Linked DNA regions of Homo sapiens: all the other regions are linked to region 3. The links come from fine-mapping of genetic effects on gene expression. A gene starts in region 3. Each other region holds a variant in brackets. All regions are shown on one strand. Distances are from middle to middle. Region 1 has its middle 34 kb from the start of CEBPA. Region 2 has its middle 23 kb from the start of SLC7A10. Region 3 holds the start of CEBPA (CCAAT enhancer binding protein alpha).

Evidence for each region. PIP is the estimated chance that this variant, and not a neighbour inherited with it, causes the effect.
Region 1: its variant is fine-mapped to the expression of CEBPA in whole blood (TOPMed, PIP above 0.99).
Region 2: its variant is fine-mapped to the expression of CEBPA in whole blood (INTERVAL, PIP above 0.99).

The regions. Positions count from the first base shown.
Region 1 is chr19:33,265,747-33,271,380 of GRCh38, forward strand. No RefSeq gene overlaps it. Among named protein-coding and RNA genes, the nearest start is that of CEBPA, 34 kb to the right of the region's middle. The variant T/C (reference allele first, on the strand shown) is at 2,921.
Region 2 is chr19:33,246,091-33,251,724 of GRCh38, forward strand. No RefSeq gene overlaps it. Among named protein-coding and RNA genes, the nearest start is that of SLC7A10, 23 kb to the left of the region's middle. RefSeq lists enhancers at 2,551-3,052, 4,257-5,140, 5,141-5,634 and a silencer at 3,444-3,493. The variant G/A (reference allele first, on the strand shown) is at 3,033.
Region 3 is chr19:33,299,663-33,305,296 of GRCh38, forward strand. CEBPA (CCAAT enhancer binding protein alpha) reads right to left here and starts at 2,872. Exons shown (of 1, transcript NM_004364.5): 1 at 272-2,872. The coding sequence starts at 2,752. The coding sequence ends at 1,676. It overlaps CEBPA-DT (CEBPA divergent transcript), which reads left to right and starts at 3,159. Exons shown (of 1, transcript NR_026887.2): 1 at 3,159-5,395. RefSeq lists silencers at 2,703-3,272, 3,353-3,612.

The DNA of each region.
Region 1 (5,634 bases), 34 kb before region 3:
TCTGTCTCCCAGGCTGGAGTGCTGGGGTGCGATCATAGCTCACCGCAGCTGCAAACTGCCGGGCTCAAGTGATCCTCCCACCTCAGCCTCCTGAGTAGCTGAGACTACAGGTGGGCACCACCATGCCCAGCCAATTTCTGTATTTTTTGTAGAGATGGCTGTGTTGCCCAGGCTAGTCTCAAAGTCCTGGCCTTAAGCAATTCTCCTGCCTCAGCCTCTTAAAGCACTGGTATTAGAAGAGTGAGCCATGGCGCCCTGCCTCTCTTAAAGATGGCTTTAACCATCACTTACAGCACAGCTGCATCCCTCCTTGGCGGGGTGGGGGAGATTCTTTCCCACCTCTCTGAGTGTCCCCATCTGGGTCCTTGCTCAGTGAGAGCCAGACTTTCTGCTATAACCAGGCCCTGAATGAGAGAGAACCAGAGTCATGTGCTGTGCACCAAATGCAGTGGGAAGACACGAGGGATGCCTCGGTGACCTTCTTTTCAAACAGGAGTCTTTCCCTGGTAACCTGCCTCTGACCTTCCATCAGCCAGATGTTATCTTCCCAAGGCAACAGTGTTCCAGAATTCTTTCTGAGGTGGCCCTGGCAGCTTCTGGGTCCTTCTATTCTGATTTCCAGTTTTCTTTTTCCATTTATTTATTTATTTATTTATTTATTTATTTATTTATTAATTATAGGGTCTTGCTTTGTTGCCCAGGCTGGAGTGCAGTGGCACGAACACAGCTCACTGCAGCCTCAAACTCCTGGGCTCCAGTGATCCTCCCGCCCCAGCCTCCTGTGTAGCTGGGACTACGGGCATGCACCACCATGCCTGGCTAACTTTTTATAGAGATGGGGTCTCACTATGTTGCCCAAGCTGGTCTCAAACTAGCAGACTCAGTGATTCTCCTGCCTCAGCTTTCTGAGTAGCTGGGACCACAGGTGAGCACCATTATGCCTGGCTAATTTTTTATAGAGATAGGGTCTCACTATGTTGCCCAAGCTGGCCTCAGACTAGTGGGATCAAGTGATCCTCCCACCTCAGCCTCCTGAGTAGCTGGAATTACAGGCATGTGTCACCATACTGGGCTAGTATTTGTATTTTTTGTAGAGACAGGGTCTTGCTATGTTGCCCACGTTGTGCTTGAACTCCTGGGCTCAAGCGATCCTCCCACCTTGGCCTCCCAAAGTGTTGGGATTACAGGCGTGAGCCACTGCACCCGGCTCCAGGTGCAGTGGAGCCGGCCCAGGCCTCACCCTTTCTCCAGACCTCACATTCCCAGGCTCGTTGAAGGGAGCAGGGTGCTTCAGGCAAACTTGGGGCTCGGGTCTCCAGGCACTTGGGGTTTTCTCCTCCCCCGGCGCTGGCAGCTGGCCTGGCTTCTCTCGGCTGGAGATGCTGAAGACTCCTCGGCTGGTCTGAGAAGCATGAGAACAGAGCTGGGAAAACTGGCCGTTTTTGTGGTTTGGGGGTTTGATGCAAGTTTCACAACTGATCTCCCAAGAACACGGTCGGTCCGGTCAGATGCGCTCCCTGGCCAGGGGCCTGCTTCCCTGCTGACGCCGGTGCTGACCGCCCGAGGCGGGGGCTCCACTCGCCCTCCCCACCCCATTCCCCGCTTTCCTTCTTTAGGGAACAGCCTGGAGGTGTGGAGAAGATGGCTTTGTTTTGGGGGCTTTCGTGGTTTCCACCTCATCCTTCAGCCTGGGGAGAGCTGACGGCCTGGTACCCCTCACTCTCATCCTGGAGTTTTTCTCAGACACCTCTGGGCAGCTGTTCTTAAAGCTTTCATTTTGAGGGGACAGTGGGCCAAGGACGTCTTTTGTAGTGATAATCTTGGGCCGGGGCTGATGAGTGGGAAGTCTTAGAAAGACCTGCTCTAGGGCTCCGGGAGAGATGAGGGCCGCCAGGGAGGCACACACCTCCGTAGCCAGCCCACTCCAGGAACCCAGAGCTGCCTCCCCGGCAGACAGCTGGGCTGGGGAGGGGGTCCTCAAGACCTGGCCCTGCCTCCAAGTAGCCTGGCCCCCGGACCTATCCTTCCACCCTGGGAAGTCCCGAGCTGCCTCAGGCCAGCTGGGGCAGAACTGAAATTGGTGACATGTGCCTCTCTGGTCCCTTGACTCCCGCCCCCGCTCCCTCACCCCCAGAGTCTTCCTGAAGGAGCCTCCAGACCCAGCGAGGAGCCACAGGCAATGCCCACCCTGAGTGGGAGCTGCTGTCCTGCCTTCCACGTGGCCCCAGCCTAGCTCGCCCTTGCGTGAACTGGGAGCTGCCCCACTTCCGGAGGTTGGTGCGTGGTTCTAGATCCTGTCGTCCCTCCGCTTGGGGGCACAACGGGCTGGGACCCATGCACGTTTCTCAGACACTCCATCTCTCATCTCACAGAGCAGGAGGGGTCTGCAAAGGGCAGGCTGGTCAGGACACAGTGTGAGGCAGGGGGCCCCGGGGAACAGAGTCCAGGCTCCACCTCTGCTGAGCAGGCAGTCCTGAGTGTTGTTACCAAGTTTGGGTGAGGGCCTGGGACCCTGTCACATCACAGCTGGGGAAACGGCCAGGGCTGGGACTCAGTGGCGAACAGCAGAACCCAACAGGCGGCCGCACAGACTCACGACCAGGGGGCTCGGTCAGAGGTGGGGACAGAGGGTGACCTGGACTTGCTGAGTCAAGGAGTCAGGCCAGCGCTGCGGAGAATCCCACAGGGCTACGCTTGGGGGCCAAGGAGAGGCACGTGGCCAGGCACATCTGGGTGGACAGAGGGGTTCCAGCCACTCACAGAGCCCTCTCAGTCAGAGCCAGATAAGCCTGGGCAACTGAGCCACTCAGGCAGGGAGCGGGCGGGCATCTGAGGTCCCCAGGGAGTCTGCCCTCCTGGTGGGCACAGCTGGGCCCAGATGAGGCCCACAGCATTGGGACTGGGCAGAGACACCCAGACA[T/C]GGCTGCTGCTGTGGGCCCCAGGAAGGCCCCATATTTGGGGTGCATCTGCCGGGTGCCTGCGTCCCCTTCCCGTTCCCTATCCCTGTGCCCCCCTCCCAGCTTCCTGTTTCTGTTTTGGGGCTGCAGGAACTTCCTCTTCTCATCACGGACCAAAATGGCTTCTTGGTCTCAGCTGAAGGCCTGGCGGGGGGCTGGTCACCCCAGCCTGAAGGACAGCCACAGAGCGAGGGGGGCTCCGAGCCTCTGGGGGCGGTGACATCTGCCAAAGGGTGAACTGTGGCCCTTTCCCAAGAGACTCCCACAGCTCCTCCGATGGAGCCTGTCATGTGAGCACCTGCCCAGGCCACGGAGGGCCTGGGTCCTGCTGGAGTGACCCTAAACGGCCCCCTTGTGCCCTTCCCGCCTCACGCAAGGGACCCAAAATATGGATTGCCTGGTCTCCCCTTCCTCCTGCTCCCTCCCAGGCACATGGTGCAGACACTTACGGGCACCGTGTTGGCCTATGTGTGTGGATGAGCAAATACACACACACGGGGTAGGGGGGTGCCCTGAGCCTGTGACCCCCTGAGCCGGTGACCCCTGCCTGCCAGGGAGCAGAGCTGCAGATTCCTGGATGCCGAGGGAATAGAAGGCCTGGCCCGGCCTGGGCAGTACATGGTGAGGGTGTGTGTGTGTGTGTGTGTGTGTGTGTGTGTGTCTGGGTGAGTGTGCCTCTACGCATGTCTAGGGGGCACCATCCTTTTCCTCCCACTCCCCCTGCCCCCTTCCCCTGAGCAGAGCTGCTCCCTTAAATAAAGCTGAGCTGTGCCCTTTGGAGCCCCTGGGCCCTCGAGGGAGTGCAGGGTGACAGAGTGGGCTCCCCTTACTCCTGGGACTCCTCACTCAGGGGGAGCCTGTGGTGGGTGTTGGGGGAGGGCGTAGGAGGTGGGCACACGCCAGGGAGGGCACACAGGATGGTGGCCCCTGATCCCCTGGAGTTGTGATGCCCACAGGAGGGGTGCTTTACCAGGCTTGGGCACCCCAGGAACATCCTGGCCTTGGGATGGGGTGTGGGGGTAAATGGGGGACGGTGCTGAGAGGCCGAGCCCCGGTCTACCTCCCTGCCCATCCAGGGGTCCCGGGATGGAGTTGAGGAGCCAGATGCATCCTCTGGGGGGTTGTGGCCTGGGTCAAGGTCAGGACAGCGCCAGGGAAACTCCTGCTACCAGCTGCCCCTAGCCCCAGGCTGCCGCTGCTGTCCAGAATTCACCCAGCGTTCACTCCATGCCAGGCACCAACACGGACAGCTCCTTTAATGCCCGATGTCCATCCTTGTCACGGACAGGTGAGTACCCTGTGGCCAAATGGGCAGGAGGTTGTGGAGCCTGGCACCCACACTGCAGAGATGCCGAACTCTGGCCAGCGGCCTCCCTCCCCAAGGCCCGCTCCATGGGGAGACAGTGAGGGGAACCCACAAAGCCTGGGGTCACTGGGTCCCCCTAGCTGGCACCTAGCTTGTGCCCCCATTAGCACAGAGAGGAGGCGGTAAAACAAACACTCCCGACTGTTTACCCCAACATCTCGGGGCCATAATTAAGCTTCCTTCAATCGGGCCCTTATCAGCCCGGTATCTTGAGCAGCCTCTGACGGGGAAACATCCCGGAGCATCTAACGAAGGAAAGTTGGACGCCTTTTGAGACTTTTTAAATCCTGAAGAATAGGCCTCTGTTGCCAGCTACCCGCCTGTGGCAGCCTGCCTCATCTCTGGACTCTGCCGGCTGCCCCAGGGGCAGGGGCAGGACCAGGCGGCCCCAGCCCTGGCACCCCAGCCCTGCTGGGATGAGCCCCCAGGCCCTGCCCACCATCTGGCTCCTCCAATTGCAGTGTCCCTGCTGGCCAGCGGTGGGGTCCTGAAGGCACCCCCTCTTCTGCCCTCAATGCCCCACCTCACCCTGCCAGATGCCAATATCTGCCTTCGGCAGGCACCCTTGCCAGCCTGGGCCAAACCCAGGTGGTGGGTGGGGCTGGTGATGAAGGGTGAGCTCTCATTGCCCACAGCCCCCCATCACCTGGTTCTACAAGTTCCCCACCAACCAGGTCCAGACCTGCCACTCTCAGCCTCTGAGCTTTGCTGAAGCTGTTCTCTCCACTTGCAAGGCTTGTCCCTGCTCCTTCCTCCTGGATAATTTCTGCTTATATTTTAAGACTTAGCTTCCAGATGTGGCGGTTCATGCCTGTAATCCCAGAATTTTGGGAGGCTGCATTGGGAGGATTGCTGGAGCCCAGGAGTTCAAGACTGGCCTGGGCAACATAGTGAGACCCTATCTCTACAAAAAATTAAAAAATAAGCTGGGTATGGTGGTGCATGCCTGTAGTCCTAGCTACTAGGGAGGTGGAGGTGGGAGGACTGTTTGAGCCCAGGGGTTCAAGGCTGCAGTGAGCCACTGCACTCCAGCCTGGCCAACAGAGAGAGACTCTGTCTTTTAAAAATTAAAAGAAGACTTAGTTTGAGTATCACTCCCTCTGGGAGCCATCTGTGCATTCCAGGTCAGGCTCCTGTCTCTCCTCTGTGCCCCTCCAACTTCATGGTCTCCATGCCCCAACTCCGTGTGTGTCCCTTGGGGGGCAGACCTTGGGTATCAGGCCAGCCCTCTACCAGGCCCAGAGCAGCCTCTACAAGTGCTCAGCTTCTGTGTATTGGAGTTAAGAAAGCATGACCTGGGGATACCCATGC
Region 2 (5,634 bases), 54 kb before region 3:
AATGGCTAGTAGAGCCAGTCTGCAGTACCTGATGTCCCCAGTAGGGGTCACTTCTAGGAGGAAGCCTCTGCCAGGCCCTGGTGTAATCAAGGAGGGCTCCAGGCCCAAGTGGGCCCATGTGCCTGTGTCTGTGCCTCAGTGCCAGTGACTTCAAGCTTGAGTCTGCTCTGAGCCAGGCGCCACTACATGCCCCCCCAGTGGACAGAGCTGCCCTCTGGCCACGCCGCCAGCTGGCTAGGGCTGATCAGAAGCCTTCAGTTTCAGGACAGCTGCCAGGGTGTGGACCATGGGGACTGGTAAGAGTTTCTGGCTAAGTCCTGGCCAAGCCATTCCAAGGGACAGCTGCAGTGTCTCTCCAGTCAGCACCTGGAAGGGGGCCAGCCCAGCCTCAGACCTGGGGCCAAACACATGTGAGTATGTGCAAACGTGCACACACGTGTCCACAGGCACACACAAATACACATGTGCATGAACACATGTTCACACATGTACTCCATGCACAAAGGAACACACACACAAATAACATGCACATGCAAGCACATGCACTAACAAGCGCATGAATGCACACACGTGCAAATGCACAGGGATGTGTGCACAAATCACATATGTGCACACACTCACACAGACAAACACTCCCCACTCTGCCTCCCCAGGCAGGCTCCAGGAATGGAGAAACGCCTTTGCATCCAATGTGTTTGGGGTGAGATCAGCTGGGGGAGGGGCCTCTTCCCTGCCTCCCCAGTCCTGGCAGCTCCTCCCTTCTGGGCCAGGCTTCTCCCCTGTCTGGACTGGTTGGCATATGTGTATGGGAGGAGGAAGGGGCAGCAGGAATGTCCTACCACCCCCAGGAGCTGCTCTGGGCAGAGGCAGGGGATGGCGCCTTTGCTGGACTCCCTGGCTGCATCTTTCTGGGTGGGGGGCACTGGGATGGTTCCTGTATCCCATAGAAGCAAACTGGGCAGAGGGCCGAGGTGGGTGCTGTGGTCACTGTCAGGCATTGAAGGGACCCGGGGTCATCCCTGAAGCAGGTCAGCCTGGGAGAGGCCTTCCAGGCTTGCTGCAGTCGGCACCCCCCCCCACAGGAAGCCAGCCCAGCCATAGCCTCCTGCCCTTTTGAAGATGCTCCCTCCTGGCTTCTGTCCCTGCTGGCAGGCTGGGGTTTCTGAACCCCTCATTCCTCAGTCATCTCGACCCTGTGAGAGCCTCAGAGGCCTCCTGATCCCTGTTGTCCCCTGGCCATCCTGGAGTGTCAGCCCGGGGCTGGCCCTGAGCTCATTTTCAGCATGACAACTGGTCCTCAGCTGACACCCCCATCCCCTCAGCCCAGGAGGCCAGCTGTGGTGGGTTCTGCTGAATCCAGCTTGCTAACCACCAGCCCATGCCCACAGTCCCTGGCAGGGGACACAGTTCTGCCCCCTCCCCCACCAGATCAATACCTCCAAGACTGCTGTCAGCAAATCTTTGACCTCTGACCTGGCCACACACAGTGACCCCTGAACCTGTTGGTCTTTCCACCAACCCTTGCTCTAGTCTCTGGGGTGGGTGAGGGGCTGACACCCTGGCTCTGGCCTGGGCTGTTAGGGGCAGGGAGAGGGTGAGGCCATCAGTCCCCACCAGCCCGGCCTCTTCCCTTCACTCCACACTCAGGGCCACAGTGGTTGGTGTTGTTGGGGGGGGGATGGATGCAGTGGGGGATGTGCCACCTATGCCAAGCAGGCTGTGATGAAGGATTCGGGGATTCCTTCTGGAGCCCAGGGGCCCTGGGAGCTCCAGCCATGAGTGAAGAGCCAGCAGCGAAGAGGATGGCTTCCCATCCTCTCTCCAAGGCCCACAAAGGTGCCCACCCCTTTCTGCTCTGGGCCCTCCGGATCGATCTGGGACCCAGCAGCCTTGCAGCCCTGACCTGAGAATGCAAAGGGGCCTGTACAGATTGCTTCCTGAGCCCTGTTCCTTGCAGCTCAGCTGGGAGGGTCCCTGTCCTGCCCACCCATCCTGCCCCAGATAAGGGTCTAGCCCACTGTCTCGCAGAAACCGTGGTGGACCCCAGTGGTGCTGTTGGGAGCCCCACATCCCGAACCACCCTGGGATACAGCCTCGGGAGTCCTGCGCTCCCTGGCAGACACCACTGACCAGGGACCCTGCCTTCAGGAAATCCGGCCAGGACAACAGGACCTGCCCCTCTGGTGTCCAGGTCAGCTCACCATGTGGCCCTTTCCTGGCCCGCCTTCCCTTGCTCCTGCTCCTAGGAAGAGATGCCTCCACCTCCACTCCCCCATGGGGCATTCTGAAGGCCATGGGTTCCAGCAGTCCTGTGCTGGCACCAACTGGGTCTGCGGTAGGACAAGGGGCAGTGGCTCAGAGACTCCAGCAGTGAGACACTTCCCTGTCCCAGGAGGAGGGGAAGAAGAGGAGCAGGAGGAGGAAGGAGAGGGAGAGGAGGGAGGATGGTCAGGGCCCCCCACTAAAATGGGACAGGCAGGTGAGGGGTGCTTGGAGTGGAGACTATGCTGGAAACTGAGGCTGAGAGAAGGTAGTCAGAGGCAGAGCCACGCATGTGTGCTCCAGTGCGCCTGACTCCAGGGTCCTCGCTTCTCCTGACTGCATCAGACTCGACCTTGACCTCTGGGTATGCTGGGTCAGGGCAGAGTGCTGACGCACTGCAGAGCCCCTCGGGCCCCGCCTCTCTGCTTACGGGGGCCTTCTCAGGAGCCAGGAGGGACCAACCCAGGTAGGGGACTGTTTGGACGAGTCCAGGCCAGGTGGAGGTGTGGGCAGCCGGCCCTGAGGTCACTGGGTGTGTGTCAGGGGTGGGGATTGTCCAGGAGGCCCCTACAGAGCAACACGTCATTCTAAGGCTACATTTCACACTGGCCTCGGGTATGACCTTGGCCGTCCCTTCTCCCCTAAGCAGTCCTCTGGGCTTTCTGGGAGCCTTGGTTTCTTCTCCACTTGAGACCTGGGCCAGTCAGGTGGGAAAAGCCAGCAGCCACGGGGGGCCTGGTGCAGAGGAGGAGGTGGGAGAAGCAGCAGGC[G/A]GGGGGCGCCCAAGGAGCCTCTCTGCCTACCTTGGGCTCAGCCTTGCACTTGATGACCCCACCCGGGCCTGTGTGACAACCATGCCACTGACGGGGAACTGAGCCTCGGAGAGGGGAGGTGACTCACAGAGGTGACCCAGGAGATGGAACCGCATTGGGAGCTGGGGCTGGACATTCCAGCCGCTGCCAGGAAAATCCTGCCGGAAGAGTGCACTGTGCGGGTGCCCAGGAGGCTGCGGGTCTGCACCCAGCTCCTCCGACCCGGTGCCCAGGACCCCTGCCTGGCTGGCCAGAGAGGGGAAGTGCGCCCCGGGCGGCCAGCCCGCAGCTGTTGGGCAACATCTGGAGGGAAGGAGGAGGTGAGGAGCAGAGGGCGTGGAGCTGGGTCCTGACGTGTGCCCGCGCTGCCCGGCACCCACGAGGGCTGGGGCCCGGTGCCACCCGGGGGTCTCAGCCTCCTTCTAGTCCCACGAGCCCTAGAGGACTTCCTAGTCCCCCTCGCTGTGCCCTGGGGGGTCTGGGCTCTGTCCTAGGGGGTCTGGGCTGTGCACAACACACCACACCCCCGCCCCAGATGGGGGCTCCTGAAGACCCATGCTCCAACACACAGGCACACACAGACACGCACAGATACACACAGATACACACCACACACAGACACACAGATACACACCTCACACACACATCACACACACACACAGATACACACCACATGCACACACCACACACAGACACACAGATACACACCTCACACACACACCACACACACACATAGATACACACCACACGCACACACCACACACAGACACACAGATACACACCTCACACACACATCTCACACACACACAGATACACACCACATGCACACACCACACACAGACACACAGATACACACCTCACACATACACCACACACACACACATAGATACACACCACACGCACACACCACACACAGAGACACAGATACACACCTCACACATATATCACACAGACACACAGATGCACAACACACACACCAAACACCACACAAACCACACAAATACACACCACACACACACCAGACATAGACACACAGATATGTACCTCACACACATATCACACAGACACACAGATACATAACACACACCACACACACACAGATACACACCACATACATACCACACACAGACACACAACACACACAGACATAGACACACACAGACATAGACACACACACCACACACACAGAGGCACACACAGACATGCATAGACAGATACACATAGACACACATGCATACATCACACACCACACACACAGATACACAGATACACACCACATACATACCATACACAGACACAGACACACATGCATACATCACACACCACACACACAGATACACAGATACACACCACATACATACCATACACAGACGCAGACACACACACCACACACACAGACACAGATACACACACCACACATACCACACACAGAGGCACACACAGACAGATGTAGACAGATACACATAGACATAGACACACACAGACACACAGATACACATCAGACACACACACAGCATACAGACACCAAACACACAAACACACCACACATACACACAACACACACATATAAACACACACTACACTCATAGACACACACCTCACACAGACACCACACAGACACAGATAGACACAGGCCACACACAGAGACTGATACACACCACACACCCACACCCCACACACAGACACCACACTCACACCACACACACAGATACAGACACACACACCACACTCACAGACAGAGATAAACACACACACCACACTCAATAGACACACCAAGCAAACACACACCACACACACAGACACACACAGGCAGACACACACGCCACCCTGACCCTGTCCACCTATACTCACGGACCATGCCTCCTCGTTGGCTGCACAAACCCACATAGACTCGCAGTCAGCCACCCTGCAAGGGTCCTCAGCCATGCGTCCCCTCCCCCACCCCTCAGCCCCGTCAGCCCCCGCTGGCCAAGGCTGGAGCTCCAGGCAGGCTTCCTGGGCTGGGTGCCCCTCCCTTTGCCCTAGGAGATGTGCAGGGCAAACGAGCACTTCCAGGGGATTCCCGGGGGGCAGGGCTGCGGTGGCTTCATGGACGGGGAGCTGGATGCCGGCCCCCTGAAGCCTCCAGCATGGGGCTTGTCACCTCCTTGGGGCTGCCCTGAGGAACCTCCTGCCCCCTCTAGAGCCAAGTCCCCCTCTGCACCCTCTGGGGTCTGGGTGGGCACGAAGGGGGCCCTCGTCTTTGACTCTCCATATTCCCCTCACGCTGGCCTAGGGTGGCCTGCGGGCCCCACCTCACTGATGTCCTGGATTGGAATGAGGGAGTTCAGATGAAGGGGCCCCCACACCGTGTGGGGCCTGGCCCATCGGGGCTGCCCTGGCCTGGGCCAAGACCCACCATCTGCTCCAGGCCATGGAGACGCCTTCCCCAGGCTCTTCGTCCAGGCCAGACCCAGTTCTCTGACTCTGAGCTGGTCAGGGCAGAAGCCCCATCTTGGCCATCAGGGCGCCGGGGACCTCTGACCTGCTGCCTCCGTGTGACATTCCACCACTCCAGCCGGAT
Region 3 (5,634 bases):
CCCAGTAACCCCTTCAGCCCCCTCCCCTGACCCCAAGAGACTGCCTTCAGGCTCTGGACATACTCCATTTGGAGCCTTGTCCTCTGCTATTTATTTGTCTTGCCTGGGGGAAGTAAGTCACCCCCTTAGGGTAAGAGGGGCTCAGGATGGATGGAGAGCTCATGAAAGTCAGGATTGCCGCCAGGGAAAATGCTGTATTATTTACAAATGTGACCTGGCCCACAGACAACCTTGGAAGTAGCTTCTTTCTGGTTTTAAAAAGACACCGACATTGACTTTGATATGTTTATATTATAGATATAATACATAAAACATCTAGAGTGAGACTCTACGTTCTCCCCAAAAGAAGAGAACCAAGCCGTCCTTCCCTGCTCCCAGCCCCAGTGATGCGTTGGCGGGAGGCCACCTCCCTTCCCGACCAGGAGCCAGGGCCTCTGGGGGACAAGCCTTGTGGGCAGCCCAGGCCGGAGGGGCTGGGGAAAGCTGAGGGCAAAGGAGAACCCCCCTCACCTCATTGGTCCCCCAGGATCAAAAGTAATCCCAAAACCAAAAGGAAAGGGAGTCTCAGACCCTTCCCCCAGCTGCCGACGGAGAGTCTCATTTTGGCAAGTATCCGAGCAAAACCAAAACAAAACAAAAACCAAATAAAATGGTGGTTTAGCAGAGACGCGCACATTCACATTGCACAAGGCACTGCTGGGGCACAGAGGCCAGATACAAGTGTTGATATCGGCTGATAAAGCAAAATATTTGGAAAGCTTGTCATAACTCCGGTCCCTCTGGGATGGACTGATCGTGCTTCGTGTTCCTAGGCAATGCTGAAGGCATACAGTACAAACAAGGCTGAGGGTCCCAGTGGCCCTTCACCCCCCATGCCCGCCCCACAGCCAGATCTCTAGGTCTCCCTCTCCCACCAGGGGTATACATCCTCAGAGCTGACCCACGACCTAGCTTTCTGGTGTGACTCGGGGTGGGGGCTCCCACTGGTCACCTGGTGACCCCCATCGCAGTGAGTTCCGCCCCAAGGGGAAGCCCAGCCTATAGCAGGCTGGGGTGGGGTGTGTGCGGAGGGAGGTGGGAGAGGCGTGGAACTAGAGACCCTCCACCTTCATGTAGAACTAGGGGAACAACCTTAGGTTCCAAGCCCCAAGTCCCTATGTTTCCACCCCTTTCTAAGGACAGGCGTGGAGGAGCGGCTGGGGCTGGCGGGCTTGTCGGGATCTCAGCTCCCTGAGCCCTCCTCCTGCCACGGGCCTGCTCCCCTCCTTCTCTCATGGGGGTCTGCTGTAGCCTCGGGAAGGAGGCAGGAAACCTCCAAATAAAATGACAAGGCACGATTTGCTCCCCCTACTCAGTAGGCATTGGAGCGGTGAGTTTGCATTTCCAAGGCACAAGGTTATCCTAAATACTAGAGTTGCCGGGCTCCCAGCTCAGCCCCAAGAATTCTCCCCTCCTCGCAGGGAGAAGCCACCGCCTGGCCCCCTCATCTTAGACGCACCAAGTCCGGCGCAGAGGAAGGGAGGGGACACGCGGAGCAGGCCAGGCTTTCAGGAGGCACCGGAATCTCCTAGTCCTGGCTCGCACGGCTCGGGCAAGCCTCGAGATCCGGCGACCCCAAACCACTCCCTGGGTCCCCGCCGGAGGCTGGCCCAGGGCGGTCCCACAGCCGCGCGCCTCACGCGCAGTTGCCCATGGCCTTGACCAAGGAGCTCTCTGGCAGCTGGCGGAAGATGCCCCGCAGCGTGTCCAGTTCGCGGCTCAGCTGTTCCACCCGCTTGCGCAGGCGGTCATTGTCACTGGTCAGCTCCAGCACCTTCTGCTGCGTCTCCACGTTGCGCTGCTTGGCCTTGTCGCGGCTCTTGCGCACCGCGATGTTGTTGCGCTCGCGCCGCACCCGGTACTCGTTGCTGTTCTTGTCCACCGACTTCTTGGCCTTGCCCGCGCCGCTGCCGCCACTCGCGCGGAGGTCGGGGTGCGCGGCGCCCAGCCCCTTGAGCGCGCTGCCAGGGCCCGGCAGGCCGGCGGCACCGAGCGCGGGCGCGGGGTGCGGGCTGGGCACGGGCGTGGGCGGCGGCGTGGGGTGACCGGGCTGCAGGTGCATGGTGGTCTGGCCGCAGTGCGCGATCTGGAACTGCAGGTGCGGGGCGGCCAGGTGCGCGGGCGGCGGGTGCGGGTGCGGGTGCGAGGGCGGCGGCGGCGGCGGCGGCTGGTAAGGGAAGAGGCCGGCCAGCGCCAGCTGCTTGGCTTCATCCTCCTCGCGGGGCTCCTGCTTGATCACCAGCGGCCGCAGCGCCGGCGCCCCGACGCGCTCGTACAGGGGCTCCAGCCTGCCGTCCAGGTAGCCGGCGGCCGCGCAGCCGTAGCCGGGCGGGGGCCCGTGCGCTCCCCCGGGCATGACGGCGCCGCCGGGGCCCGCGGGCGCGCCCGGGTAGTCAAAGTCGCCGCCGCCGCCGCCGCCCGTGGGGCCCACGGCCGCCTTGGCCTTCTCCTGCTGCCGGCTGTGCTGGAACAGGTCGGCCAGGAACTCGTCGTTGAAGGCGGCCGGGTCGATGTAGGCGCTGATGTCGATGGACGTCTCGTGCTCGCAGATGCCGCCCAGCGGCTCCGGGGCGGCAGGTGGGGCGGGAGGCTGCGCGGGGCCCGCGCCCCGGGGAAAGCCGAAGGCGGCGCTGCTGGGCGCGTGCGGGGGGCTCTGCAGGTGGCTGCTCATCGGGGGCCGCGGCTCCGCCTCGTAGAAGTCGGCCGACTCCATGGGGGAGTTAGAGTTCTCCCGGCATGGCGAGCCTCGGCGGCCTCCAGCCTGCGCGGGGCGTCGCCGCCGCCCACCCGGAGACCCTGCTCGCCCGCGCCCGCGCACCTCCGGGTCGCGAATGGCCCGGCCCGCGCCGGCCCAGCTTTTATACCCGGCAGGCCGCGTCGCCCCCTAGAGTCCGAGGCGGCCTCTGTCCCCGGGCTGCGGCGGCGCGGCGCCTGCTGGGTCCTAGCGCGCGGCCGGCATGGGGCGGCGAACCAGCGCGGCACAGCGCCGCGCTCCCCAGGCAGGCCGCGGCGCAACGCCCACCGCCTCCAGCGCGCCCAGCAGAGCCGCGGCGCTCGCTCCAAGCTCCGCCCCCGGCCCGGCCGTCGCCCCCGCGCCCACGTGGTCGGTAGCGGGGGCCCCCTCCTCCTGCCTGCCCTAGGCGCCCGTATCCAGCCACGGCCGGGAGCCCAGGAGTATCCCGAGGCTGCACGGGGTAGGGGTGGGGGGCGGAGGGCGAGTCTTGGTCTTGAGCTGCTGGGGCGCGGATTCTCTTTCAAAGCCAGAACCAGGCCTGTCCCGGACCCGCGTCCCGGGGAGGCTGCAGCGCAGAGCAGCGGGGCTGGGGCCGGTGGGGGGCCGTTTGGGACGCGCGGAGAGGTCCTGAGCGCGGTGGCTCTGCGTCTCCTAGCTCTGATCTCCAGGCTACCCCTGTGATTCCGCGCAGAGGTACCTCTCGGAGGACGCCGGGGTCCCATGGGCGGCGCCGCGCAGGGCGCTAGGACCCCGCGGGGAGCGGAGGCGGCCTCGGCCCGGGAGCCTGGAGGACCTGGCCGGTCGATCCGCCCGGGCTGGAAAACTTTCTTTATAATTACTTCTCCAGGTCGGAGCGCGCGGCTTGCTAGGCGCGCGGGGCCGGCGCTGTTACCCGGCGTGGAGTCGCCGATTTTTTTTCCTGCGGGACCGCGGGGCCCCCCAGACTAGCGGAGCTGGACGCCGGGGCGAGCACGGGGAGGGGCGCACCGAGGGAGGAGACAAACTTAACTCTGGGGCCGGGATTCCGAGGCGGGGGCCGCAGCCCTCGAGGCCCGAAGCCACCGCTTCCTCCCCCGCCTCCCCATTCAGGTGGGCGCCAACGGCGGGAGCGAGGGTGTCCAGGCCGCCGGGCTGCCAGGTCCGAGCACGCACAGGGAGAACTCTGCCCAGTGGTTCGCCGGGCGCTGTAGTCCCCGGGATCCTAGGGACCGAGGCGGCCAGGCCCTGGGGCCCCTTGAGTGCGGCAGCTAATGCTCTCACCGCGGCGGGGGAAGGAGCTTGCCACCGAGACCCCCAGCCACGTGCGTCCCTCGCATTCTTTACCGGGGCCGGGGTGGCGGCTACGGACCGTCAGCTGGGCCCAGATGGAGTCTTGGGAGCCCTCAAGTGTCTCCTGTCCTTGCCCGCGCCGCCCCTCGCCACTGGCGCTGAGGCCTGACGCCGCCTGCGTCCCGGCTAGAGGCGCGCTTGCCTACAGGTGAGGGAAGACCCCCTTCACCGACAGTGGCCTTAGGCCTGGCAAGGCGCCACGACCCGCCCAGGAGCCCCGGAGGGGGCACAGCTAAAAACACCGCTGGAGAGCCCCGAGCTTCCACGACGATCGCAGTAAAGAAGCAGTTTCATCTGGGCAACGCACACTGCGCTTTAATCAAGTTCCTATTCAACATAGTCCCAGTGATTAATAGCCCAACTGCTTCGTTTTCGGTCCAGAGCTCATAAACAAGATATTTTTAGCTTGACGCTTTTGGACGGGAGGGAGTAAAAACCAGATACGTTAAATAAATATCCCGATGTGAGCCGGAGAGCTGCTTGCTGAGCCAAATGCAGGACCCATTCATATAGCATTCACCTGTGGAGGGAGACCTGGACGGAAATCAAAAAGCACCAAGAGCGATTTGCGTTTTTTTCTGCGGTGCTAAAACTAATGGCTTTTCCTACCTAGGAACAAAGAAACGCCACTGTACATGCACGGTTCCCGGCCTGTGGAGTTGTGGGAGGAAGGCGATGTCTGGCCTTTTTTGCACAGCTGCTGTTGCCTGCCCAGAGATCGGGAACTCTGCCCCGTAGGACTGGAAGAAACCTCAGTAATGGGAATAAGACTTTGTCCAATAGGGGGCTGATGAATGTGTGGGGGCGACAATGGCAAGGAGTGGGACTCCCGGCCCGGGGTTCGCCAACCCCAGGGGCCACAGGTCCTCCTACAATTGAACCAGAATTCACCCACCCGGGCCTGCCCTGTGCAGGGTGCCGAGAGCCCAGGGATGCATGAGAGGGTGGCTCCTGCCTCTGGGAACTGGGACAGTGGGAGAGACGGATAAGTTGTCACACAGAGGCTGCTGGGAGGAAGGAGGAGACAGAAGGAGTAGGGGATGGGACTTCATTCATTCATCAAATGCACACGAGGCACAAATGGGAATCAAGGGTGGATGTGCTGTGATGAAGAGAAGTCCTGCCCTGAACAAGGTGGCGCTGTGGAGGAGGCAGAGATCAGATTTGTCTGCGGAGGTGTTATGGACTGAACTGTGTCCCTGCCCCAAATTCCTATGTTGAAGGCCTAACCCCCATGTGACTGTATTTGGAGATAAGGCTTTTAGGAAGTCATTAAAGTGAGATGATGTCATATGGGTAGGGTCCTAATTTGATAGGATTGGTGGCCTTATCAGAAGAACAATGTCATGGGCATGCACAGAAAGGAGGTGGCCGTCTGCAAGCAGGGAAGAGGCCCCTCACCAGAACCTGAGGGTGCTGGCAGCTTGGCTTTGGCCTTGGGCATCCAGCCTCCAGAACCATGAGAAATAAATGTTTATGGTAGGTCTATGATGGCAGCCTGCTTGGACTGAACCGGCGGTGAGACAGGGCTT